7 linked regions of the Homo sapiens genome follow. The protein of the gene in region 7 purifies or fractionates together with the protein of the main gene of each other region. This does not show direct contact. Each region holds a gene or a part of one and is shown on either strand. Other genes may lie near its edges.

The links.
Region 1: the proteins of MMP7 (region 7) and CNOT9 purify together in Homo sapiens (affinity purification with mass spectrometry; 3 studies listed by BioGRID and IntAct, with this or other methods). This does not show direct contact.
Region 2: the proteins of MMP7 (region 7) and ARMC8 purify together in Homo sapiens (affinity purification with mass spectrometry; 3 studies listed by BioGRID and IntAct, with this or other methods). This does not show direct contact.
Region 3: the proteins of MMP7 (region 7) and CNOT2 purify together in Homo sapiens (affinity purification with mass spectrometry; 3 studies listed by BioGRID and IntAct, with this or other methods). This does not show direct contact.
Region 4: the proteins of MMP7 (region 7) and CNOT1 purify together in Homo sapiens (affinity purification with mass spectrometry; 3 studies listed by BioGRID and IntAct, with this or other methods). This does not show direct contact.
Region 5: the proteins of MMP7 (region 7) and MKLN1 purify together in Homo sapiens (affinity purification with mass spectrometry; 3 studies listed by BioGRID and IntAct, with this or other methods). This does not show direct contact.
Region 6: the proteins of MMP7 (region 7) and TNKS1BP1 purify together in Homo sapiens (affinity purification with mass spectrometry; 3 studies listed by BioGRID and IntAct, with this or other methods). This does not show direct contact.

What each region holds. Positions count from the first base shown.
Region 1 is NC_000002.12:218,589,339-218,592,838, reverse strand, and holds part of CNOT9 (CCR4-NOT transcription complex subunit 9), read right to left. Parts: intron 536-3,500; coding exon 437-535; intron 224-436; coding exon 132-223; intron 1-131. UniProt on the Homo sapiens protein: Component of the CCR4-NOT complex which is one of the major cellular mRNA deadenylases and is linked to various cellular processes including bulk mRNA degradation, miRNA-mediated repression, translational repression during translational initiation and general transcription regulation.
Region 2 is NC_000003.12:138,239,301-138,242,800, reverse strand, and holds part of ARMC8 (armadillo repeat-containing protein 8), read right to left. Parts: intron 3,334-3,500; coding exon 3,273-3,333; intron 1,019-3,272; coding exon 818-1,018; intron 1-817. UniProt on the Homo sapiens protein: Component of the CTLH E3 ubiquitin-protein ligase complex that selectively accepts ubiquitin from UBE2H and mediates ubiquitination and subsequent proteasomal degradation of the transcription factor HBP1.
Region 3 is NC_000012.12:70,351,433-70,355,493, reverse strand, and holds the end of CNOT2 (CCR4-NOT transcription complex subunit 2), read right to left. Parts: intron 1,666-4,061; coding exon 1,579-1,665; 3' UTR 501-1,578; downstream 1-500. UniProt on the Homo sapiens protein: Component of the CCR4-NOT complex which is one of the major cellular mRNA deadenylases and is linked to various cellular processes including bulk mRNA degradation, miRNA-mediated repression, translational repression during translational initiation and general transcription regulation.
Region 4 is NC_000016.10:58,619,827-58,623,326, forward strand, and holds part of CNOT1 (CCR4-NOT transcription complex subunit 1), read right to left. Parts: intron 1-3,500.
Region 5 is NC_000007.14:131,442,876-131,446,375, reverse strand, and holds part of MKLN1 (muskelin), read right to left. Parts: intron 2,896-3,500; coding exon 2,674-2,895; intron 603-2,673; coding exon 473-602; intron 1-472. UniProt on the Homo sapiens protein: Component of the CTLH E3 ubiquitin-protein ligase complex that selectively accepts ubiquitin from UBE2H and mediates ubiquitination and subsequent proteasomal degradation of the transcription factor HBP1.
Region 6 is NC_000011.10:57,300,953-57,304,452, forward strand, and holds part of TNKS1BP1 (182 kDa tankyrase-1-binding protein), read right to left. Parts: intron 2,144-3,500; coding exon of another isoform or gene 2,017-2,143; exon of another isoform or gene 1,913-2,016; intron 1,874-1,912; coding exon 1,507-1,873; intron 1,273-1,506; coding exon 1,122-1,272; intron 992-1,121; coding exon 855-991; intron 90-854; coding exon 1-89.
Region 7 is NC_000011.10:102,520,748-102,524,247, forward strand, and holds part of MMP7 (matrilysin preproprotein), read right to left. Parts: intron 2,655-3,500; coding exon 2,493-2,654; intron 58-2,492; coding exon 29-57; 3' UTR 1-28. UniProt on the Homo sapiens protein: Degrades casein, gelatins of types I, III, IV, and V, and fibronectin. Activates procollagenase.

The sequences.
Region 1 (3,500 bases), on a different chromosome or scaffold from region 7:
TGTCTCAGACAAACTAAATGCAGTTATATCCCCACTTCCCTGTCCTAAAGACACAGGAGCTATGCCATGAGATTAGGAAACTGTTCAGCAGAGTATTTCCCTAAAGTCCTATACATCCTATAAATGTTTACCTGGGGTTATCTGAAAGTCGAAGGTAACATCTCACTACATGCTTCAGCAGACGGGCAGAAGGCTCTTTGGATAGCTGCAGGACCATCTTACCCTGTTTCCCCCAAAATAAGGGGAGGGGTTGGAAAAAACACACAAAACACAAACAAATTCTAATTGACATCAGAGATCAGATAGTCCAAGAATCATAAAAGGTTCCAAAATTGTTAGTTCTAGTCAGAGGACTGAAGTTGTTCAATGCCAGTTATAAAGAGATTAAGCTTTGTGATGAGAAGTAGTTGTAAAGGGGATAGATGAAAGAACTCACCAAGATCATGGCAACATGGGAGAAACGCTCATACGTCTGACATATATAAGCCAAACCAGTGTCATCTAACAAGATCTTCTGGAGGATGAATGTGGCAACCTGAAGCAAAACAAAATCGAAGAGTTTATAAAGTTGCTCAGATTTAATCTTCTCATTTTCTACTCATTTTCCCAGGCATGACTATCAGTCAGAAAATTGAGCAAGCAGGGATCCTTGTATATTATGTACAACTTTATCATATATGTATAGTACAAAGAATAATAAATATTACCATGTTGAACATTACTTTGTACCAGTTTTTTTTTCTAGAGGCTTTACATGCTTATCTTATTTTTATAATAAATCAATGAGGTAGGTACCATTATTATTCTCACTTTACATACAAGGGTAGGTTCCGTGTAATTATCAAATTCTTAAAAACTCAGAGACCTTCTCATTTACAGAGTACCTACTATGTGCCCGGTATAACTGTTAATCAATAATGCACCAGGTTAAGGTCCCAAGTGACAAAGTTACTATGGCACAGCTGAGATCCAAGCCTCATTTGAATATCTAAGGCTCTTCTCTTTTCCATAGGCCAAGATGATTTATTCAGCTATGCCTCCTCTCTTCCAGATGAAGTAAGGCCTTTCTTTCTTTTTTCTTTTCTTTTTTTTTTTTTAGATGGAGTCTCACTCTGTCGCCCAGACTGGAGTGCAGTGGCTCCATTTCAGCTCACTGCAACCTCTGCCACCCTGGTTCAACTGATTCTCCTGCCTCAGCCTCCCGAGTAGCTAGGATTACAGGCTCCTGCCACCATGCCTGGCTAATTTTGGTATTTTTAGTAGAGACGGGGTTTCACCGTCTTGGCTAGGCTGGGCTTGAATTCCCTGACCTCGTGATCCACCTGCCTTGGCCTACCAAAGTGCTGGGATTACAAGCGTGAGCCACTGCACTCGGCTGAGATAAGGCCTTTTTTGTTCTTAAAAGATCTTGAAGAAATAAGATTTTCACGCTTCTCTTTGAAGATTATCTAACAGTAATAAAACATATCCTGGCTGTGAAGCTTATATGTGGCCTCAATTTTTCCCTCAACTTGAGCTCATTAGCTCTTACATAAAAGAGATATTAAAATATTAGTTTAATTTAAATTAGACAATCACGATAATGATACTCTTTCTTGGCTGCTCATCAAAATGAACTGTGGAATTATTTTACTATTTTATTGGGGTTATAACACTGTAGTAGGCTGAATAATGGCTCTCAAAGATATCCAGGCCCTAATCACCAAACTCTGCAAATGTTACCTTAAATGAAAAATGGGACTTTGCAGACGTGATTAAGTTAAGGATCTTGAGATGGGGGATTATCCCTGTTTATCCAAGTAGGCCTTAAATGTAATAACGAAGTGTCCTTAAAAGCGATGTAGAGAAGGCCAGGCAAAGTGACCCATGCTGGTAATCTCAGCACTCTGGGAGGCCAAGGTGGGAGGACTGCTTGAGGCCAGGAGTTCAAGGATGCAGTGAGTTATGATCATGCCACTGCACTCCAGCCTGGGCGACAGAGAAAACCCCATCTCTTAAAACAAACAAACAAACAAAACAACAACAACAACAACAACAACAAGAGAGATGTAGGGAGAGATTTTACCACAAAGGAGAAAGCAATGTGACAAGCAGAAAGAGATTTGAACATGCCACATCGCTGGATCTGAAGAGGGAGGGGGCCATAATCCAGGGAATGCAAGAAATGCAGTTCTAGAAGCTAGAAAAGGCAACAAAAAGACTCTCCTCTATATCCTCCAGAGAAAGCATGACCCTCCTGATACATTGACTTTAGATTGGTGAAACTCATTTAGAACTTGTGACTTCCAAAACTATAAAACAGTAAACTTCCATTGTTTTAAGCCACTACCCTTCTAGCTTGTGGTAATTTGTTATAGCAGCAGGTTATATAGGAACCTAATATAAACTTACACACAGTGAAGTGTGTTAAGTGCACTAATCTTAAGTGTACCTTGAATTTTTACCTATGTACACATTATGTACTATAACCAGATTAAAATACAAAATATTGTATAAAATACAGAATATTTGGGAGGTGGAGGCAGGCAGATTGCCTGAGCTTAGGAGTTCAAGACTAGCATGGGCTACATGGCGAAACTCCATCTCTACTAAAAATACAAAAAATTAGCTGGGTATGATGGTGTGTGCCTGTAGTTCCAACTACTCAGGAGGCTGAGGCATGAGAATTGCTTGAACCCAGGAGGCAGAGGTTGCAATGAGCCGAGATCACTCCACTTCACTCCAGCCTGGGTGACAGAGTGAGACTGTCTCAAAAACAAAAAACAACAACAACAAAAAAAAAAACAGAAAAAAGCAATATTTCTACCAACTCAGGATTCCAGCATTCCCTTGTACCTTTCCCCAGTCAATGTTCTTTCCTCAGAGCTAACCACGAATCCAACTTATTGCCAGTAATTGGCTTTGCTTGTTCTTAAACTTCACATAATCAACATACAGTATGAATTCCCATGTGTCTGGCTTCTTTTGCTCAACAATGCCTTTGACAGTCATCCATATATTGAATATTTAAAATAAAAAGCTTAAAAATAGCCAGGTATAGGGATGTGTGCCAGTATCAAAGCTACCTACTCCAGAGAGGGAAGTGGGAAGACTGCTTGAGCCCCGGAGTTCAAGGCTATAGTGTGCCATTATCATGGCTGTGAATAGCCACTGCATTCCAGCCTGGGCAACATAGTGAAACCTTGTCTCTTTAAAAACAATAAATTGGTCAGGCACAGTGGCTCATGCTTGTACTCCTAGTACTACGGCAGAAGGCAGGAAGATCCTTTGAGCCCAGGAGTTCAAGAGTAGCCCAGGCAACATAGGGAGACCTTGTCTTTACAAAAAATAAAAATAATTAGCTGAGTGTGGTGGAGCAGGCATGTGGTCCCAGCTACTTGTGAAGCTGAGGTGGGAGGATCAACTGAACCTAGGAGGTCGAGGCGGCAGTGAGCCATGCCTCTCTACTCCAGCCTGGGTGACAGACAGAGATCCTGTCTCTAAATAAATAAATAATTTAA
Region 2 (3,500 bases), on a different chromosome or scaffold from region 7:
TGCCTACCAAATGAGGTTTTTTGAAACTCAAAAGCATGAGGGAGAGGTCAAAAGGAGAATAGTTACCATTGGAACCACTGGCATGAAAAATACAGTTACATTCATGAAACAGTACTGGCTACTAATTAAGAGGCAATGTTCTCTCTACCATGACCTCCTTGAATAAACTTTCTCTTACAGAATGTTCATCTCCTATGCTTAAAGAAATGGATAGGGCAAACAGGCTGAGATGCAACAAGTCAAAATAAATACCGATCTATTCTAAGGAACTTAGGTTTTCAGAAAAAGCACAATTTGGCCTTTTTGGTCCCAAATTCAAGATTAAATGATGCTTTAGCTGTCACTAGCAGGCCCAAAGCACAGTATGAAACTGGGAAAAAGAGAAGATAGGGAAAGGTAACAAAATAGACTGTGGTGGAAAGTAACATGGGACAACTTAGTCTCCTGTAACAAAAAGATTACTCCTGACCTAAAGAATGAGAATGTAACAACAGAGATGATTCCATGACCAAGAATAAGATTATACGGTTATGTCAATACCCAGCTTGGAGAATCCACTACTTTTGAGGTTTAGTTGGGGAGTTAGGATGCAATTTTCTTTATTGCTTATCTGCTCAGTAAAAACTTTCTGACAATAAACATTAAACAACTTGGATTCAAAAATTCACAAAGCAATATTATCTATGTTACCAAAGATAAAAGAACCTTTATTTAAAAGGGCTTTAAGCTGTAGTTATCAATTGGTTCAAAACTGTGAACAGTAAGAAAAACTTTAGAAAAATCTCCCTTGAGCTGCTAAAAAAGGAAAATAACATACCCTTTTAATATCAGTGATGGCACTCACTGAGCTGGGATACTTGAAATAATCAGCAAGCATGGCAATGAGGTGATCAGTTATGCTAGCGATTCTCTGTAGCTCAACATCTGGTTCAATCAGATAGGCAAGTGTCTCAGCTCCTTCAACTCTCTCCTCTAGTAATCTCTCCTTACTGCACATTCGAACCAAACAAGGTAATGTCTGAAAGGTAGTGAGATTAATTATTTGCTTTTTGGTAAAGGTAAAAGCTTAAGCATATAGTGACTGAATCAACTCAATAGCTTTTATCAGGAGTAATGTTTATGATCATATATTTCCTTTACTGACTTCTAGAGAATAAAAGATTTTTTTAAAATGCAAAAACAAGCAAAATTCAGTACACATTAATAATTTGTACTGGCACATTAAACTCTATTCGTACGTCAAAGTATATTAATACAAATTCTAATTAGGCTTTTGGGACCGATAAGACAAGTTTTATTGTACAACTTTGTAAAAGACATTTAAGAATCCCTAACAAATCATGTCTGATGGTTCTGCCCTATCTATCTATTTATTTACCTAAAAAAGACCCAGCAGTTTAATCAGGAATGATTTTGCCTTAGGAAAAGTATGCTATCTCTTCCTTAGTGAGTAATATCGTTTATTTTTTGGTTTGGGGAGTCATACCTACAGTTGCCAAAACAAAATACAGCTTTAAAACTGCAGTGATCTTACCATTACTCAGATTCCACCAGTTCTACTATAATGCAACTGAAATGTATCACAGTTGCTAGGTTTTCCCAGTAACTTGCTGGAATTAGCAGTGGTATCCATGAGTCCAATTTTACTTCTGAGGTCCCTCAAAAATCTTGGCAATGGTTTGGTAACTTATCTACATTAGGTTCTCAATAAAAATATTACAGACATTTACTATTTCTTTTTCTTTTTTTTTGAGACGGAGTCTCGCTCTGTCGCCCAGGCTGGAGTGCAATGGCACGATCTCGGCTCACTGCAACCTCTGCCTCCTGGATTCAAGCAATTCTCCTGCCTCAGCCTTCTGAGTAGCTGGAATTACAGGCACCCACCACCACTCCTGGCTAATTTTTTATTTTTAGTAGAGATGGGGATTCACCAGGTTGGCCAGGCTGGTCTCGAACGACATTTACTATTTCTAAGCCTGACGGATCCACTTGAAAGGACAATGTGGAAGTATAAATTGAAATGTTATCATTATAGAAAGTCTTCCTCAAATACTGCAGGCAACTGTGCTTTGCTCTTTTATATATAATAAGTTCCTATTATATCTTTTACCACAGAGCTTAGCACTTCATCGTTCACTACTAATTTCCTATTAGGCTAGTAGAAGCTTTATAATTCAACCCTAGGTTTCCAAGGGGAAGGCCCTATTCTTTTTTCCCTAACATTACTAGTTACTAATATTTATTGATACCATAAATTCATGAATTATGTAATCTAATGCTCATGACTACTATGTGAAGAATATACTACTAACATTTTACCAATGCAGAAAAAGAGGAAGGTTAGAGAAGTAAATAAATCAAGATAAATGCTATGGAAGTCCGTGGCACTCTATGAAGAGTTGTTTACTTAGGGAGTGTTCAGATCTCATTAAATTAATTCTCTTCCCCAAAGACTAAAGCAAATATTAGTCTTCTTTGTGCTCTTTTATCCTTGGGATCACCTTTTGAACAATGATAATGTGAGATCTCATATTTATAAAATGACACATCATCAATTTACTTATACTTAATTTTTTATAGCTAATAAGACATTTTAATGTATTTAATATATTGTTATCCTCACAATAACCCTGTGCATAGATGAGCAGGAATTATTGCTTCAATTTTCATAATCTGGAGTCCGAGGCATCAAAAGAATAAAGGATGTACAGTCAGAGGTGGGAGTGCTAAAACCAGAATCCAGGTTTTAGGACTTTTAGGGCTGGTCTTTTCTCCAGGTTTTTCTAAATTCAAGTTGTATATGACATATCACAATGACAATGCTTGTTTTCATGTGTTATCTACTTATTCTCTTTCATTATGCCTTTTGATTATCAGCTATGAGAATGATATAAAGTCTTTTTCTGCAAAAGTGGCAAATCGTCTGCCTCTAAAACTGTAGTACAAATTTAATGACAATCAAGAACGAAATATATTTTCTGTTTCACCTGAATTGTACACTTTTACAATTTCCACATCCTCCTAATTACCATAAAATGAAAGGCTGTGACAATGAAATAATTATTTCACGCTGACTTTCGAAACACATCTAAAATCAATTTTTAAAAACTATATGACATCCACTGAAAAGAAAGCATGGTCTTTCAATATTATTCTACGCCATGCACATATATCATAATGATAAATGTGTAAAATGAAATATGAGTATCAATACTGATATTTAACACATAACTGGATAATTTTCACATTTTAAAGATAATTAATTAGCTTACCTTTAATACAATACAGTTATCATCTGTCCGAATTGCTCCAGCTCTACACATGTAAGTTAAACTGGAATAAGACAGCAGAAAATAAGTTTTTGCTTGGAGTTTAAAGCTTTAAATGAAAAATTATTTGCCTTTAAGATTTTATTAAAAAATCGAAAACCAAATAATATCACTTATCTTGAGAGTGAAGATTTTGACAATTCGCTTTTCGGAGGTTCAGTCAATTTAATA
Region 3 (4,061 bases), on a different chromosome or scaffold from region 7:
CTCTCTAGTTCTGCTTTGGAAGCTTCAATCTTCTGATTTTTAAAATACAGTATTTGTATTTAGATGGGAAAAGAATCCACTAACTTGTAAATATGAGATATCTAGGCCAGCAAACTGAAGGTAAAGTCTACCCATTCCCACCTTATGGCTTACCTTCATTTGCACATTACTTCTTAAAGATAAATTTAAAGGTCTATCAAGAAATTTCTCATAAATTTTTCACAGAAGTACTTTGGTTGGGTTCCAAGAGTATTCAGAATGTTTTATTTCTAATGCTGCCACAACCCATTTAAAAAAGTTTTCTCTGATTAATACTGTCTACATTTTTAACCTACAAGTGAAACGGTTCACTATATTTCCATTAAATTACTTGTTGGAAGCTGAAAAAGACATTTGAGTCACACCATTCAGTTTGATATCTGTAAAACTTCAGTTTGTTTCCTCTATTTTTCATGTTGAAGAAATAATTTCGCAATTTCAAATCAAAGCCAACACTGCAGTGAGGAGAGCTTTTCTACTTTATTACAAAGAGAAGAAGCCTTTATGTGGTCAGAAAATACAAGATTGATCTTTTTTTCTCTTCCTATGAAACGCTGCTGTTCAAACAGCCAGAGTGAATTGTCTCAGTTCACTTCTTTTAAGTCCCATCACATTCACTTGGGTATGGATGTCCTTGGCTGCTGAAAATCTGGCCCTTTTAGTGCACAGGGCGACAAAGTCCCCTGACCAGCAGTTCCAGAATGTCCCATTTTCATATATTGCATCCATGCACACCTCCTAAAAATGAGGTACAGCAGGGCAAACATTTTCCAAAATAGATGTCATATATATAATATATACACATTCGTACATACATACCTTTATTCATGTGATGTCCAAAAATTTAAAAAAAATGTACACATTTATTACAAAATCGTAACAAAGACTGGACAGTGTTTTGCTCATTCTGGAAAGATGAAGCTCAGTAATAACACAACCCTGGAAAACCATCCAGAGATTGTGGCAATATCTTTCTTCTAAACAGTCAGATATTCTTGCATTAAGCTTGGCGAAACTGCCTTTCAAAAACAGAAGGGGAAGTAAAATGAAGGAAGCAGACCTCTTGCTCATCTTTCCAAATGAAATACGAGAAGGATCTTCACATAAAAATGCACAAACATTTGTTATTTTATTACCAATAGTGCTACAATGAACAATGCAAAATTTGTGGTCTAATTTTCTTGAGTCTTTTGGGGGTTTTCTTTTTTACATTTTAGAAACTATGGTAAACTTCTGTCAGTGTATTTGCTTGTCTTTACAGACTCAAGTCTGTCTGCTGGCAAAAAAGGAAATAAATGAAAAAATTCAGACCCTGCTCAAACTAGAGAAAAACAAATTACAAATTTAGTTGTTGGGCAGCACATAATTAGTAAGGCAGGACCTCAAATGGTGACCTTTTGCGTAAGCCAATTGCCAGATCCTCAAGGAATTAAAACCAGGGTGCCTGAGCCACATCAGTTCTGCAGTTATGTTGAGTATTGTGCTGAGACAGCCATACCCCAAGAAAAGGGAAGTCTTTTTTTTTTTTTTTTTTTTTTTTTAGAAGGCTTGCTGAGCAGGGTTGTAGTTGAAGGTGGATGGCAGGTGAGGCCGTTCTTCTAATTTGTCATATTCCAGATGGAACTCCTATAAAAACAAATTCAAGAATTTAGATATCTTCCCCTTTTCATTTTACATTTGTCAAAATACATTTTACTATAAAAATAAATAAAATACCCAATATATATGAATCAACATCAACACAGATATACCAACTGTTTTTCCTCTACATAAAATACAGCTTGAAGAAAAATAATGTGCTGTAGTTTCTAACCAATGAGTACAAAAAATACAGACAGGCTTTCTGTGTGTAAGTCAAGAGACTACTAATGGACCACTTGACACTGAAATGTTGTGTATTGTTTTTAACTTAAAAAAAGAGGGGGCAATTACTGTATCTCTGAATCACTGGAAATTACAGGATATTTAAAATAAAGCCCCCTTCAACGAAGTATAAAAACCTAAAGATTTTGTCCATGAAAAAAGTTTAGAAATAATTTTCCAAATTGTCTTTATTACATTTATATTAAAAAATAAGCAGGGCCGCGCACAGTGGCTCACGTCTGTAATCCCAGCACTTTGGGAGGCTTAGGTGGGCAGATCACGAGGTCAGGAGATCAAGACCATCTTTACCAATCAACATGGTGAAACCCCGTCTGTACTAAAAATACAAAAATTAGCTGGGCGTAGTGGTGCACGCCTGTAGTAGCAGCTACTCAGGAGGCTGAGGCAGGAGAATCGCTTGAACCTGGCAGGTGGAGGTTGCAGTGAGCCAAGATTGCACCACTGCACTCCAGCCCAGATGACAAAGCAAGACTCCGTCTAAAAAAAAAAAAAAAAGGAAAACACATAAAATTATTCTAACCTCATTAAAATCTGGGGAAAATAATGAACTTAAAACTCACACATCACTAGACTTGCATTTCACAAACCCAAAACCCTGACTCAAATATAAATCAACTGCCACCGAAAACTAGACAATGGTTCTGCTGTAGGAACATTTGAAAACTAGATAGCAGCTCACTTTAATCAAACTTTCAAAATACTGTATTAACTTCATGAGTTTTAAAATTTAAGAATGGTGACATAATTTCTTCATGATACTTCCCACCCAAGATCAAGAATAGAGATGCAGAATAGCTATGTATATTAGAAAAAAATGCAAACAACAAATACCTCTGCAACCCCAATAAGCAAGAGGCTCTAAAAGCCTCTTACCAATTCTACCATCTGAATTAGCACAAATTACTGCATAATCCAACTTAAAGAATTATGAAGCTTAATATGTATTATGTATTAAAGATTAAGGCAACAAGTGACATTAGCTACCATGGGTTAACATATTTTACCTTATCTGTCTGGTTTCAAACTGATTCCATGATGAGTATTTCCATTATTAAATTAAAATGAAAACCTAGACTATAATGACCAAATTTTAAGATGGAACACCAAGTATTTAAAATTTAAAGATATTACACTTAAATAAATTTAAAGATATTACAGACCTAACAGCAGAATTTATTGAAAGCCTAGTATGTGCTAAAATTAGAGATACAGCTAATTTTATTCTAATCTTTGTAATAATTCTGTAAAGCAGATATCATTATTTTCATTTTGTACCTGAAGAAAATGAGGCTTACAAGTAACTTGGACAAGTCATCAGTAAGCGGCACACCTAGCATTAGGATCCAGACCCATGTGACAAAAAGCCTCCATGTGACAAAAAGCCTGTGTCTTTTGTAGTGTAACACATTATTTTTAATATTTTTAGTCCAAGATCCAAAACAGATTCATTTACTTCATTACAAGGCAATCCAGAAATGCTGAAAGAATTCAGTCCCCTTCTCTCTTGGTATAAGGTGAAGAAAAAGGAAAAAAAAAATCAGTCCCCTGAGAGTTTATAAAGAAGGTACACCATGGTGACTTTAGCCTGAAAAGGTTGCCTTCATGTGACTGGTACAGTAATTAAGACACAGAGGTTATTTGCTTATCAGTAAAAATTAGCAAACACCAGAATCACCACCACAACCATGACATCCTGCCCTAATACACTGTGTAGCACTACTCCCCCTCTCCCAGCCCTAGCTAGGAATTAAAATAATTTTATTGCTTGGTTCAAGTTGACTATCTGAATTCGTGAAGAAAATTTGTTATCATTCTTCTGAAATTAAAATTGGCATTTTTGTTTTCAAAATGTGTAGTTACAGGGAAAAAAAGTCTAATTGTAACTTCCACAAAGTGGTAAGTTATACTGAGTAAGTTAACTAAAATTTTTCACATTGATGAACTACAATGTATGACTAGGAATTCAAACTAGATTAACTTTATCAATGTACATTTTCCCCCAGAAAAATATAGTTTAAACCTAAGCAGCGTAAATAATTTTGATATAGAGATTTAGAAATTTTGATATAGAGATCAGAGATTTAGAAATTACATAGGTAAAATTTTGCCTTCCACGTTTTAAAATCTTGTTTTCCACG
Region 4 (3,500 bases), on a different chromosome or scaffold from region 7:
AGAAAACTCTATCCAAATAAAAGGTTGGGGGTAAAGAAAGATCTCCCTAATTAATTCAAGAAATTGCCAAGATGTAAATAGTTTAACTCTGTAGATTACTAGAGATAGTCATGATATTCTAAAATCCAATGCACAAATGAAACTAAAATCCTGACCTACATAATGAACCACCACCGATAGATCTTTTCCTCTGAAATGTTACTTGCTCATTCAAGCAGTATGAAAAAAAGAAAAACCAGAGTATCGATTTCCAAGAATGCTATATTCTATCAATTTACCCAACTGTAATAAATGAAGCACTATTCAATTACAGTTCAACTGTATATATGCACTGGGGAAAGAGACTCCTTACTCACTATGGGACAGAAAACTTAAAAGGCATTGTAGGGTGCACTTAAGTGAAACTGGCCAAGGATGGCAAAAAATCAATTTTGCTTAAGGAAATTAGGTATTTATAGACAGTACACCTGAGTTTGGACTAGAATGATAAAGTTTTGGTAGAGATGACATTCCAGATGTAAAAAGACGAAGAGGCTGGGTGCGGTGGCTCAAACCTGTAATCCCAACACTTTGGGAGGCCGAGGTGGGCAGATCACCTGAGGTCAGGGGTTCAGGACCAGCCTGGCCAACATGAGGAAACCCCATCTCTACTAAAAATGCAAAAATTAGCCGGGCGTGGTGTGGCAGGCACCTGTAATCCCAGCTACTCGGCGGGGATAAGGCAGGAGAATCGCTTGAACCCGGAAGGAGGTGGTTGTATTGCAGTGAGCCAAGCTCGCGACACTACATTCCAGCCTGGGTGACACAGCGAAGACTCTGTCTCATTTAAAAAAAAAAAAAAAAAAAAAAAAGAGGACAAAGATATATTTGGGTACCACTGCTTAACAGTCTTTTGACTATAATACAACACAGTAGTACCACAGGGAAGGAGGAATCAACACTTATAATTCCAGATGAAGGTATTAGAATGACTTCTGAACAAAGAAAGGATATTTCCAAAGCAATGATTTAAGTGGCATTTTGGCAGAAATATAAAAAATTAACTGCAGTCCTAGAATCTTTTACAATCACAATATCCACATATTATTTGTGAAATAAACCCAAAAACCAATGATAAAGAAACTATAATGGAGATTAGTTAGAAAGTTATTTCAAAAAAGACAAGAGCCTGAAACTAGACAAAAAGATAACTTTTTTTTTTTCTTTTTTTTGAGACAGAGTCTGTCACCCAGGCTGGAGTGCAATGATCACAGCCCACTGCAGCCTCGACCTCCCCAGGCTCAGGTGATCCTCCCACCTCAAGTTTTGTATTTTTAGCAGAGATGGGGTTTCATCATATTGCCCAGGGTGGTCTGAAACTCCTCGGCTTAAGTGATTTGTACACCTCTGCCTCCCAAAAGTGTTAGGATTGCAGGCGTGAGCCACTGCGCTGGCCCAGCTAACTATTCTTTCTTTTTCTTTTTTGAGACAGAGTTTTGCTCTTGTTGCCTAGGCTGGAGTGCAATGGTGCAATCTCGGCTCACCGCAACCTCCACCTCCCAGGGTCCAGCGATTCTCCTGCCTCAGCCTCCCAAGTAGCTGAGATTACAGGCACGCGCCACCACGCCCAACTAATTTTGTATTTTCAGTGGATACGGGGTTTCTCCATGTTGGTCAAGCTGGTCTCAAACTCCCGACCTCAGGTGATCCGCCCGCCTCGGCCTCCCAAAGTGCTAGGATTACAGGCATGAGCCACCACGCCTGGCAACTATTCTTGTTAGCAAAACCAGGCCTTATAGTTTGTCCAAATCCACAGAATATACACCACCATGGCCGGGCATGGTGGCTCACACCTGTAATCCCAGCACTTTGGGAGGCCGAGGCGGGCAGATCACGAGGTCAGGAGATCGAGACCATCCTGGCTAACACGGTGAAACCCCGTCTCTACCAAAAAATACAAAAAACAAATTAGCCGGGTGCCTGTAGTCCCAGCTATTCAGGAGGCTGAGGCAGGAGAATGGCATGAACCCGGGAGGCGGAGCTTGCAGTGAGCCGACATCGCACCACTGCACTCCAGCCTGGGCGACGGAAAGAGACTCCGTCTCAAAAAAAAAAAAAAAAAAAAAAAAGAAGATACACCACCAAGAGTGAATTCTAATGTAAACCAGAGAATTTGGATGATGATGATCTATCAGCGTAGATTCATCAATTGTAAGAAATGTACAGGCTGGGCTCGGTGGCTCACACCTGTAATCCCAGCACTTTGGGAGGCCGAGGCGGGTGGATCACGAGGTCAGGAGATCGAGACCATCCTGGCTAACACGGTGAAACCCCGTCTCTACTAAAAAACTATAAAAAATTAGCCAGGCGTGGTGGTGGGCGCCTGTAGTCCCAGTTACTAGGGATGCTGAGGCAGGAGAATGGCGTGAACCCGGGTAGCACAGCTTGCAGTGAGCCGAGATGGCGCCACTGCACTCCAGCCTGGGTGACAGAGCGAGACTGTATCTCAAAAAATGTACCACTCTAGTGGGGGGGGGGGGGGGGGCGGGCGTGGACAATGGGCAAGGCAAAGCATGTATTGGGGCAGGAGATAATACAGGAAACCTCTGTACTTTCTCATCAATTTTACTGTGATCCCAAAACTGCTCTAAAAAATAAAATCAATTAAGAAAAAAACGCAAAACCTAGAAGCTATAAATCTAAGGGAACAAACGTTTAATTATCTGACTCGGAAACTGCTGAGTTCTGAATATAAAGCTTAAGAATATTATAGGCTCACGCCTATAATCCCAACACTTTGGGAGGCTGAGGTGGGTGGATCACCTGAGGTCAGGAGTTTGAGACCAGCCTGGCGAACATGGTGAAACCCTGTCTCTACTAAAAATACAAAAATTAGCCAGATGTGGTGGTGGGCACCTATAATCCCACCTACTCGGGAGGCTGAGGCAGGATCGTCTCTTGAAACCTGGAGGCAGAGGTTGCAGTGAGCTGAGATCGCACCACTGCACTCTAACCCAGGCGCCAAGAGTGAAACTCTTGACCCAAAAAAAAAAAAAAGAAAGAAAGAAAAAGAAAAAAGAATGTTAGATAGCGTCTTTGAAAATCCTTTTGGCTGGGTGCAGTGGCTCACGCCTGAAATCCCAGCACTTAGGGAGGCCAAGGCAGGCAGATCACCTGAGGTCAGGAGTTCGAGACCAGCCTGACCAATATGGCAAAACCCCGTCTCTACTAAAAATACAAAAATTAGCCAAGCGTGGTGGCAGGCGCCTGTAATCCCAGCTACTCAGGAGGCTGAGGCAGGAGAATCGCTTGAACCCAGGAAGGAGAGGTTGCAGTGAGCCGATATCGCGCTCCAGCCTGGGGGATACAGCGAGACTCTGCCTCCAAAAAAAAAAAGAAAAGAAAATACTTCCATCCCACTTTTATATTTCAAATAATTACTTCAACATTACTGTAATATTTATTGTGAGATATACATTTGGTCTTCATCCCATTTCCTGGCATACAACTTCTAAGATCCT
Region 5 (3,500 bases), on a different chromosome or scaffold from region 7:
TGCATAATCTAAGCAAACCAGCCATTCCACTACTAATAACCTCCTAGATGCTGAGCTTTTAAACTTACAAGGTGTTACCAATCCCATGAAGTTCCCCCCTTAAGACACACACCCTACTATGCTAGTGCCTAATATAAAGATCACTACAGTGAAAATAGAAGATGAAAAAAATTAGCAAACACAGAATAAAAAGTTTTTAAGATATTGATTCTTCCTACCCCGCCCCCCAACAAGCACACACACAATTCATTTAGAAATTCACATATTTTCTGCTTGAAGGAAATAGTAATTCCCATATTTAAAAATAGATAGAACTGAATAAGCTGGTAGAATTTTCTTTCTCTTACTTGGAATTACTCAATTAAAGAAATAAAGAAAGGGTGAAAAATGATTAGAAAGAAAAGAGAATGAACTGCAGTTTTCTACCTAAAGTAGTTAAGACATGAGAGAAGAAATCACTCAATGCCCTTACCCATCCCAGAGTCTTTCTTGGTGCCATCTGATATTATGTCTACATGATCAGAGTCCACATCATAACTAAAGAAATCATTCAAATAGGTCTTTGATCGCTGGCCACCAAATACATATAAGCAACGATTTTTCTGAAAAAGAAGAAAAAAAAAAAGAAAGGAGTAACTTATCACTTCCATGAAGAACTCAGAATGATCCTTTAAAAACTTAAACCTCTACAAAAGTAATTTTATAACAGATCCCAATGGAGTACTATGCTGGAATAAAAGGGAAAGAGGAAGCTCTCTACATATTGCTAAAAGGGGATCTCTAGGACATCCTGTTAAAGAAGAAAAGCAAGGTGCAGAATAATATATACAGGTTCCTTCTTCCTTTGTGTAGGAATGGAGAAGAAGGAATATCTGTGCATCAGACAAAAAGAGAGGGAGAGAGGGAAAGAGAATGTGAGAGAGGGGAAAAGTGAGAGAGAGAGCACGCAAGCGAGAGCGAGAATAGAGATTGCTTCTTTTTTTGAAAAACAAAGGAAGGATAAACCAAAACCTAATAAAAGACAGTTACCTATAGTGGCAGGAACAGAGCAGGAAGACCTCTCCAAAAATAATACCTTGATGTATGGTTTTGACTTTAGAACAATGTATATGCTTTTATTTAATTAGAAGACAAAATTAACTCAAAAAAAAAATCTAAAATTTGGGCAAAAAAAATCCAACAAATAAACCTATCTGTATATAAAGATATACTCAGACACAGAAATAGTATTTCTAATGATTTTAATACATACTTTTTGACTACCCATCCCTAGAAGTCTAAATCCTAAACAGAAAAATAATCAGAAAGCAACGTTAAACAGCACTCAGTGATTCTGTTGTTAGTTTTCTTTACTGTGAAAGCTATTATAGACAGACAAAGCAACTAATGTTATGAAGCAGGATTTTAACCTTAAAAGACACAAAAATAGGCCAGGCATGGTGGCTCACACCTGTAGTCCTAGCATTTGGGCAGGCCAAGGTGAGAGGATTGCTTGAGACAGCCTGGGCAACACAGCAAGGCCCTGTCTCCTACTTCCACTTCCACTTCCACTTCTACTACTACTACTACTACTACTACTACTACTACTACTACTACTACTACTACTACTACTTCTTCTACTACTACTACTACTACTACTACTACTACTACTACTACTCAAAACCCAGGTGTGGTGGTACACACCTGTAGTTTTAGCTACTTGGGGGGCTAAGGTGAGAGGATCATTTGAGCCCTGACATTCAAGGCTGTAGTGAGCTACGATCTGCGCTCCAGTCGGGGTAAAAAGAAAAGATATAAAGTTACAAAATAGAAGACATTAAGATAAAAAATATTTTATTTGAATCAGACATATCAGTATGAATTCACAATTTAATTTTTCTCTTACAAAAAAAGATACATAAATATGTTGTGGGGGGTGCTCCTACTAGCCAAAGAGAAAAATTTGAGCATCAAGAAAGTGGCCAGGTACAGTGGCTCATGCCTGTAATCCCAACACCGCAGAAGGCAGAGGCGGGTGGATCACCTGAGGTCAGGAGTTCAAGACCAGCCTGGCCAACATGGTGAAACCCTGTCTTTACTAAATACAAAAAATTAGCCGGGCGTGGTGGTGCATGCCTGTAATCCCAGCTACTTGGGAGGCTGGGACTACAGGCACAGGTCACCACGCCAGGCTAATTTTTGTATTTTTACTGGGGATGGGGTTTCGCCATGTTGGCCAGGCTCGTCTCAAACTTCTGGAATCAAGTGATCCACTGCTCCTGACCATTGCTGATACATTTAAATTCTAATTCTATAAAATCAAATCTTAAATTCTTTGTACTTAATGGAGAATAGCAGAAGGGAAAATAAGAACAGAGTAAGAAATTGTCCTTCTAATTACTAAGAGACGTAAGTGGAAAGGCATAAGAAAGGAACATAGCTACAAAATCTACATAAGCAGTGAAATTAGTCATAAGATTGCCCAGGTTGGTAGCCAGGTAGTAACTATTTAGGAATTACCAGGTTGATGGGAAGAGTCTCATAATTAGCAAACAGTTCACTGTTAAAGAAGTTTTGTCTTTCTCTGTCATTGCTACACTAATCTCTTCCTAAAGAATTAGATTTCACCACTTCTTTTCCTATCTAGATATACATGACAAAATAACATTTACGCAATGTACGGAATGTTCTTACTGAGTGGAATAACATGCAGTGTCCTATTCGAGACTGGATGTCCTCAGGCCCAGCATTACAGGAGTCCTCTCGAAGAAGTTTCCAGGTTTGACATTGACAGTTGAAAGCAAACAAGCCACTGAATTGTGGTTCACTGGCTCTGCTGTCATCTACGCTGCCATTACAAGTCAAAATTCTACCACCAAAAGTGTAGATCATATGTTTTTCTGAGTCCATACACATCTATCAGAACAAGGCAACAGATTGAATAGTTTTAGTTTGTTCCTGTCATATGTGCTAAAACAAAACCAACATGTACAGTTTTACATTCTCAAAAAAACCCTAAACTTTGTCCCTAATGACACTAAATACCACCCCTGATTATCATATGCAAGTTTCTAAATAATTTTTCAAGTTGTCATTTTTGTCAGTGAGGGTAAAAACATGTTGGAATAAAGAGCTTTCTGCTTTCTTGAAATTGCATAATTTTTATCAAAATCAACCAATGATACATGAGGCGTTGATTTATATGTAAGAGTGAATACTTATATTCTGGGTGAATAGTGATCATACCCTCCTTATAAAAATTCCCTTCTTTCATTCTAGGCAAGCATCCTATTAATATTACTACCATTTACTAAGCGATCAGATATGCAAATAAGAGTGGTGAAGCTAAATTCACCTCTCTGCATTTATTTTTATAAAACCCTTCAGATTATGTTACAAAACAGTAAAACAAACAAACAAAAGGACATTTACAACAATCAAGTCTCCAGACTGACTTCTACAATGTGAAGAACTCTGCCTACTTTTAACATAGCACTATTTAATTTTCTTTGAATTAAGCT
Region 6 (3,500 bases), about 45 Mb from region 7:
GAACGCTGGACCGCGGACTCCTTCTGGCTCGACTTGCTCTCAGCCAGCTCTCCCTCCTCAGCTGAGCGATTCCGGGGGCGCAGCTTGGCCTGAGAAGCAAGTCCAGAAGCAGATAGATAGTAGAGGGACAGGCAGTAGGACTCTCAGGGGGTAAGACCTTATCTCAAGAGTGTGCAGTCCCCAGAATCAAGCAGAGACCCCTCTGCAGTCCTTTCACCCCAAAGGATGGGAAGTCACTTAGAGATGCACTTCCCGCAGAACTGAGCTATGCCTTGCACACCTTTCTGTCCTCAAAAACATATGGCAGGATTGAATTCAGACAAACTGGGTGGGACAAAGCCAGTGGTGACTTCCCACCCCTGTTCCCTCTGCCTGCAATGCCACCCCACCATCCCAGCTCCAGGAGCCAACTCCTGTGCCTGCCGCCGGCTAAGATCAAATACATACAAGAGGCCTTCTCCAATCCACCCTCCCTTCCCATCCCCCTCCACTCTGCTGTTAGGAAATAACTCCTCTCTCTCTGAACAGGCCCAGCCCTTATCTGTGCCTCTCCTCAGGGACACCTAAACTTCTTCTCTCATCCAGGCTAATTATGGGCATCATGTCTCCCACTGCCCCTGAGGTTCCAGAATAAGAACACATCTTGTTCTTCTTTCCATCCCATTTGGCACACAGCATAGGGCCCGGCGGGGCACAAAGGGATCTTCTGGAGCCCTCGATGGAGAGGAGAGTGAGAGGAGGAATGGGAGAGGGGGACAGGGGAATGAATTGATGGATGAAGAGAAGAAAGACAGCATGCAAGGTGGCCACCTGGCCAGATGGCTGGACATGTTTGCTTAATGATCAGATGGTACCTTCAGGGCTGAGGGGCTCAGGCCAGGAAAGAGGTTGACTTTCAGCCCCTTGGTGCCCAACGACATCCGTGTCCGGCGGCTCTGAGGTTCCTCCACTACCTCTTCATCTGAAGATGGCACCCGAGATGCCCGTGGCTCTGCAAAGGCCCGGGAAAGGGGCTCAGAAAAGGCAGCACACCCAGACTCCCCGAACCCATAACCCCTGCAAAAGCTTGGCCTAATGCCCTAGAGATCAAGAGACATCACCAAATAATACATCAGCCCTACCTGTAGAGTCCTGGAACAGGTGTGCATCCGAGTCTGCTGCCTCCGACAGGCCCAAGGTACCCCCAGGCCGAATGACCGGGGCCCGGTGCCCACGCTTGCGCCCCAAGTTGGCACGGCTCCGATACATGGCACTGTCGAGGATCTCGGTGTCCTGCTTGGGGCAATGGTGACACCACTGCCATTGCTGCCTCATCCCACGGGAGCCCCTCAACAGTAGCTGACCAGGAGCTGGACCCCTCCTGCAGCCGGAGCTTCACGTTCACGTGACGCACCTACAACCCGCTTTCTGCCTCCTGGACTGGGACTGCTCAGGGAAGCTCCAGGAATGGGGCTCTCGCTGCATCGCCCTCACCCACCCACTGTCATGGGCTCACCCTCCACTGACCTCAATGAAGGAGAAGTCCTGACTGGGGGATCTGGCAGGAGGGCCTTGGGAGGGTCGCCGAGAAGTCTGTGCTGGCCCCTGATCGCTCCACCTGGCTGCTGAAGAGCCCCAGGTGCCATCCACGTCTTCTGTCTGGCTGGCCTCACCATCAGGCTGCGGCCTCCAGGAGGGTGGAGAGTCCCTGCCAGGCTCCAGCACCTCCTCTTGGGCAGCACCTGCCCCGGCTCCTTCCTCCTCCAACAGGCCCCCAAGGCCCGAGGCCGCTGACTCCCTCCGAGCCACCGCCTTGGAGCTGCTGGCTGCCAGCATCTCCTCCAGCAGGCCCTGGGAGCCGGAGGGTGGGGGGCGGGCCGGGCACCTGCCAGGGCTGTAAAGGGGACAGAGAGAGAACGAGATCATCGTAAGGCCCCATCTCCCTGCCCTGAAGCCTACTTCACAAGCTCCTTCCCCCAGCCCCCAAACTCTCCCTTGCCCTCCTTCCCATGCTTTTTCCAGACTCCAAGGACACGGTCAGGGCCTTGAGCAACACAGCACACAGGTGAAGAGCTGAGCCAGTCTGGCAGGTTCAAATCCCTGAGACCTCGGGTGAGCCCCCTCCCCTGGAAACAGCTCAGGCTCCTCTAACTGCACGGAGTCGCTGCAAGGATGAAAGAAAAATCTAAAGCACTTAGCACAGTCCTGGTCAGCACGCACCGCAGAAGCAGCAGCCATTATTCCTGCTGCTGTTGCATGCTAGCAATGTGTTCCCTCCCAGGGCCACGTGCTCGGGCAGTCACACTCCTTGGGGTGAGCCAGGTACTGGCCCACCTGCCTCTCCGGACTCATGTTGTCTTCAGCCCCCACGTTATGCCTCTTCATTCCCCAGGCTCACAGAGCAACCAGGGACCATCAGAAGACACCCGGCCCTCACATGCTGCTGGCTTTGAACGAGCTGCTCCCTCTTCTGGAAAGCTCCCCGCACCACACCGTCCCTGGTGGTACTGTCCCCTTGGTTCAATTCTGCTTCCGAAGCTGCCCTGCCCCCTCCCAGCCACCATGGCCGCCTCAGCCCTACCAGCCCTGGGCTCCAATCCATGCCAGTTCCTGCTTCTTTCCTGTGGTTCTTTGTCCCCATAGCCTGTCGGTGAGCTCCTCAAGGGCAAAAACGGGGCCCTTTCTGCCTTTATGCCCCCAGCACCTGACCCAGAGCCTGGCTACGCGCCGGACTAAGCAAATGTTTGCCAAGCAAATGAGGGGCTGGGTCACCTTGGACCTCCATGCAGCATATGCATCTTCTGTCTGCTGCTTCCTCAAAACACAATACAGCTGGACATGGGGTGCAGGGCTCACGCCTGTAATTCCAGCTACTTGGGAGGCCAGGGCAGGGGGATCACGTGAGCCCAGGAGTTCAAGACCAGCCTGGGCAACATAGCAAGACCCCATCTAAAAACAAAATACAAACACGGCACAAGCACACCACACACTCTCTCACTAACTCATACTGCCCGCCCTGTCCAGCGGCCACTCCCCAAAATGACACATTCACATTCATCACCATCACACACACTCAGGCAGAGAGCTTGTGCGCTGTTTGTCACTCCCCCAGATGGACCTCGCACCCACCACATCTACAGGCACGGCACAGAGCCACACCTGACACAAACACACGCATCCCCGCATCCCCACACCCCCACCCCACACACACACACTCATACTACGCACAGAGGTGTGGGAAAGCCTGGCACGGCAGTGCCTGGAAGCCAGGCCCCAGGTTCCCACTGGGATTAAAGCAGGAGGAGAGTGGGGCAGGTGAGTCAATACCAAGCAGGAAGAGGGGGCAGGGAGAGAGAGCATGAGTGGTAGTCTGTCCTTCCACAAGCTGCTGACAGATGGAAATTAAAGTGGTCTGGGGAGAGACATTGGGGGAGGAGGCAGTGGCGGCAGCAGAAGTACAGCAAGGCAGCAGAATTGGGAGCAGCCCTGGCTGGGGGCCAAAGCCAGCTCACCCTGACAGC
Region 7 (3,500 bases):
GAATGAATGGATGTTCTGCCTGAAGTTTCTATTTCTTTCTTGAATTACTTCTCTTTCCTATTGAGAGAAAAAAAAAGAACATTCTGATATGTAGAAAATGCATAAAAACCATCCTAAGATTATACAGGCAAAGGAAATGTCACAGAAAGTATAATCTATTATTCACTCAGACCATTTCTTGTCCCTGGGACAAAGATTCTGAAGAACAACCTCCAGAGGCTAAGAAGGCAGGATTGACTGGAGTGTGGGCCCAGGGCTCAGGTACCTTTGCATCTTGTTTCTACCAGTTTACTAGATGTGTGACCTTAGGTAGTTTACTACTTAACCTCTCTTAGCATCAGATTACAAATCTGTAAAATGTGGATAATAATGTCTCATTGAATTCTTGAATTAAATGAGTTAATCCATGTGAAGTCTTGGGATACTGCAAGTACTCAATGCATGTTAGCTATTATTTATTTATTTTTTGAGATGGAGTCTCACTCTGTTGCCCAGGCTGGATTGCAGCGGTGTGATCTTGACTCACTGCAACCTCTGCCTCCTGGGTTCCGGCAATTCTCATGCTTCAGCCTCCTGAGTTGCTGGGACTACAGACATGCACCTTCACGCCCGGCTAATTTTTGTATTTTTAGTAGACATGGGGTTTTACCATGTTGTCCAGGTCTCGAGCTCCTGGCCTCAAGCGATCCCCAACCACCTTGGCCTCCCGAAGTGCTGGGTAAAGGCGTGAGCCACCGCGCCCAGCCAGCTATTATTTTTATCATTCTGAGTATAGCATTAGGAATCTTGTATCTTAATCACTTTCTTTGGAATCTATGTTTTCTGCTCATATTACTTTTTAGATTAACTCCCTACATATACAGCCCACATAATTAAATTCTATTTCCATTTGTCCAGAAGTTACTTGTTTCCAACTCTGACCAGAGATGCCCTTTTGTCTAATACTTAAGGTTTTAATGCACTAGTCTCTTTTCTTCCTGTTAAATTTAATCAGCATGCCTCAGACCTTCTTTAGTCTCTTTGTATTTTTCTTAGGGTTCTAAAATATTTATAGACTGCTATAGAATATTCCATGAGTTCCACAGTTTTATGTAAGGGGAGGATAGTATTTTCAGTTTTGTTCATGATAACTTTACGAACAATAGTCAGCATTTTGTGAATCTTTTGGACAGCAGTGGTTCTTTACGTCGTAACTTTTGGGAATAGTTACACAGCATTTTCCAAAGTGTGTTCTCTGAAGTGCTAGTTTATGGGACTCATTGAGACCCATAAAAAGGATTATAATTTAGGAAACACTGAGTTAAACATTTGTTCAATACTCCATACTCTCTAATAGTCTATACACCTGAAATACAGTAGGTAGTGTTTCTTGAACTTATTTCTCCATAGCCTCCTTTTCTGGGAATCACCCTGTAGGACTAGTGTTCTGAGAATACAGTTTGGGACATGCTGATTTATAGCAAATGCTAGGTTGAACTGATATCTTAAATCCAGTGTCTTACTGGAATATTTCTCCCCTGAGGACAGTCCTCTATTATGTGGAAGCACTTTCATTGCTCACGTGATCATTTGAAGAATCTTAAGTGATCTTTTTGCAGTGTATTCTCTTCATCCTGATATTTTTACTGGCTAGGTTTAGTTATATCTGCTGATTTAAAGATGTCATTCTGTATTCTTTTATTCTTACTAGGATAAAAAGCTTACTGGGTAGTGATAGGCAGGAATATGTCGTAGAAAAAGTATGAAGTCACATAGCCCTCACTTGGAATCATGGCTCAAGCACTCGACAGTCACATGACCTTGGACAGTCCACTTAGCCTCTTTGAATCTTACTTTCCTTATCTTTATCCAGAGACAGAGCTTTTTATTCTTGTCCTTTGATTTCTTTCTCAAATACTACTTTTGGCTGACTCAATACAGTAAATCCAAATCAGTGCACTTAAAAAAACTGAATTTGGAACTTGATTAAACCAAAAAAGCATAGACTGGGGCAAGGGATATACATAAGTATCAAGACCAGGAATGATAAGCAGTTTCTGTCCGTGGTTAACCGCTTTCTCTACATGTACGTGCAAACAGGAAGAGCAGGGTCACTTATAATTATCTAGGATTGAATCCTTAGGAGTGGGCAGCTATGAAGAAAGGTGTTTTGTCCCTTCAGTCCACCCCTACAGGGGACACTCTCCTAAACTATTTAAACTGAGAGAGGAAGAGCAGTGGGTGGCAGCTTGAAGAAAATCTGGACAATATCATTTGCATAATTTTACCACATGATACTATGTTACTGAAACTCACAATCAACATCTTCATAGTATATTACAGCCTAGTTATATTTTAAGTATCTAAGGTCCCCAATTCCTCCCCTCAATAGGCTTTTTGATATGAGTTCCAGTGTGGTTTTCCAGGTAAATACCCATTTCCCAGCCTTTCTTTTCCTACCCCACTCTAAAAAGAAAATGGGAAATCCTCTTATTTGAAATAATAAATATTACCATATAGTTTCTGAATGCCTTTAATATCATCCTGGGAAAGTTTAAAATTTTGGGGATCTCCATTTCCATAGGTTGGATACATCACTGCATTAGGATCAGAGGAATGTCCCATACCCAAAGAATGGCCAAGTTCATGAGTTGCAGCATACAGGAAGTTAATCCCTACAACCGAAGAAGTGACAAACAGTAATGATAAAAATAGCTACATACATTATGTAATATTATATATATGATATCATAATTTAAAAAAACTAAAGAAAAATACCCAAGTTTTAGCCCACGGTAGCTTACTTATTTGTTTCTAGGCTTTCAAAAGTGGAGAGGGGTTAGAAGGTTAATCAGAATAGGAGTGCTTTAATCTCATCACTACTTCTGCTTATTAAAAATGTGTAATTTTTTTTATTTGCTTCTTTCATTCAGGCAGCAATACTCTGCAGTGGAAAGCAAAGGTTTTAAAAGCACTAAGACCTAGGTTTGAAATGTAGCTCCACTACTTACTAGCTGGACAACTCTGGACAGATTAATTGATGTTGCTGAGTCTCAGTTTCTCATCTGTTAAACAGAGACAGTAATTTCTGCCCTCTAGATTTGTCATGATAGCTAGAGTTTCTCAATATTTGGGAAGTCACGGCCATTCAATAAATGTTAGTGACTTTGGATATCAGAAGAGAGAATGGTGGCTTTGAGAAAGCGAAGATTGAAAGGCAGGGTCTCTAGGCAATGCTGGGCTTTGTTTTTGATTTTGATTCATTAACTTGTATTACATATATCCTTTGTTCTCCCTCATACTCATTGAAAGGCTTTGCAAGTATGTGGAAGGTGTGAGCCCGTGCGTTTGAGGAGTGGCCTGAGCTCTGGTGGCGTTGCATTGAATTGAAGGAAGCTGCCTTTAACCTACCTTAAGTGGGAAGAAAGAAGAATGAAAAGAATATGCCAGATGCAAATGGGAGGCAGCATCACAATTTAACATAGATTTTCACAGCAAGACAGCAAGCTATGGTGAATTCC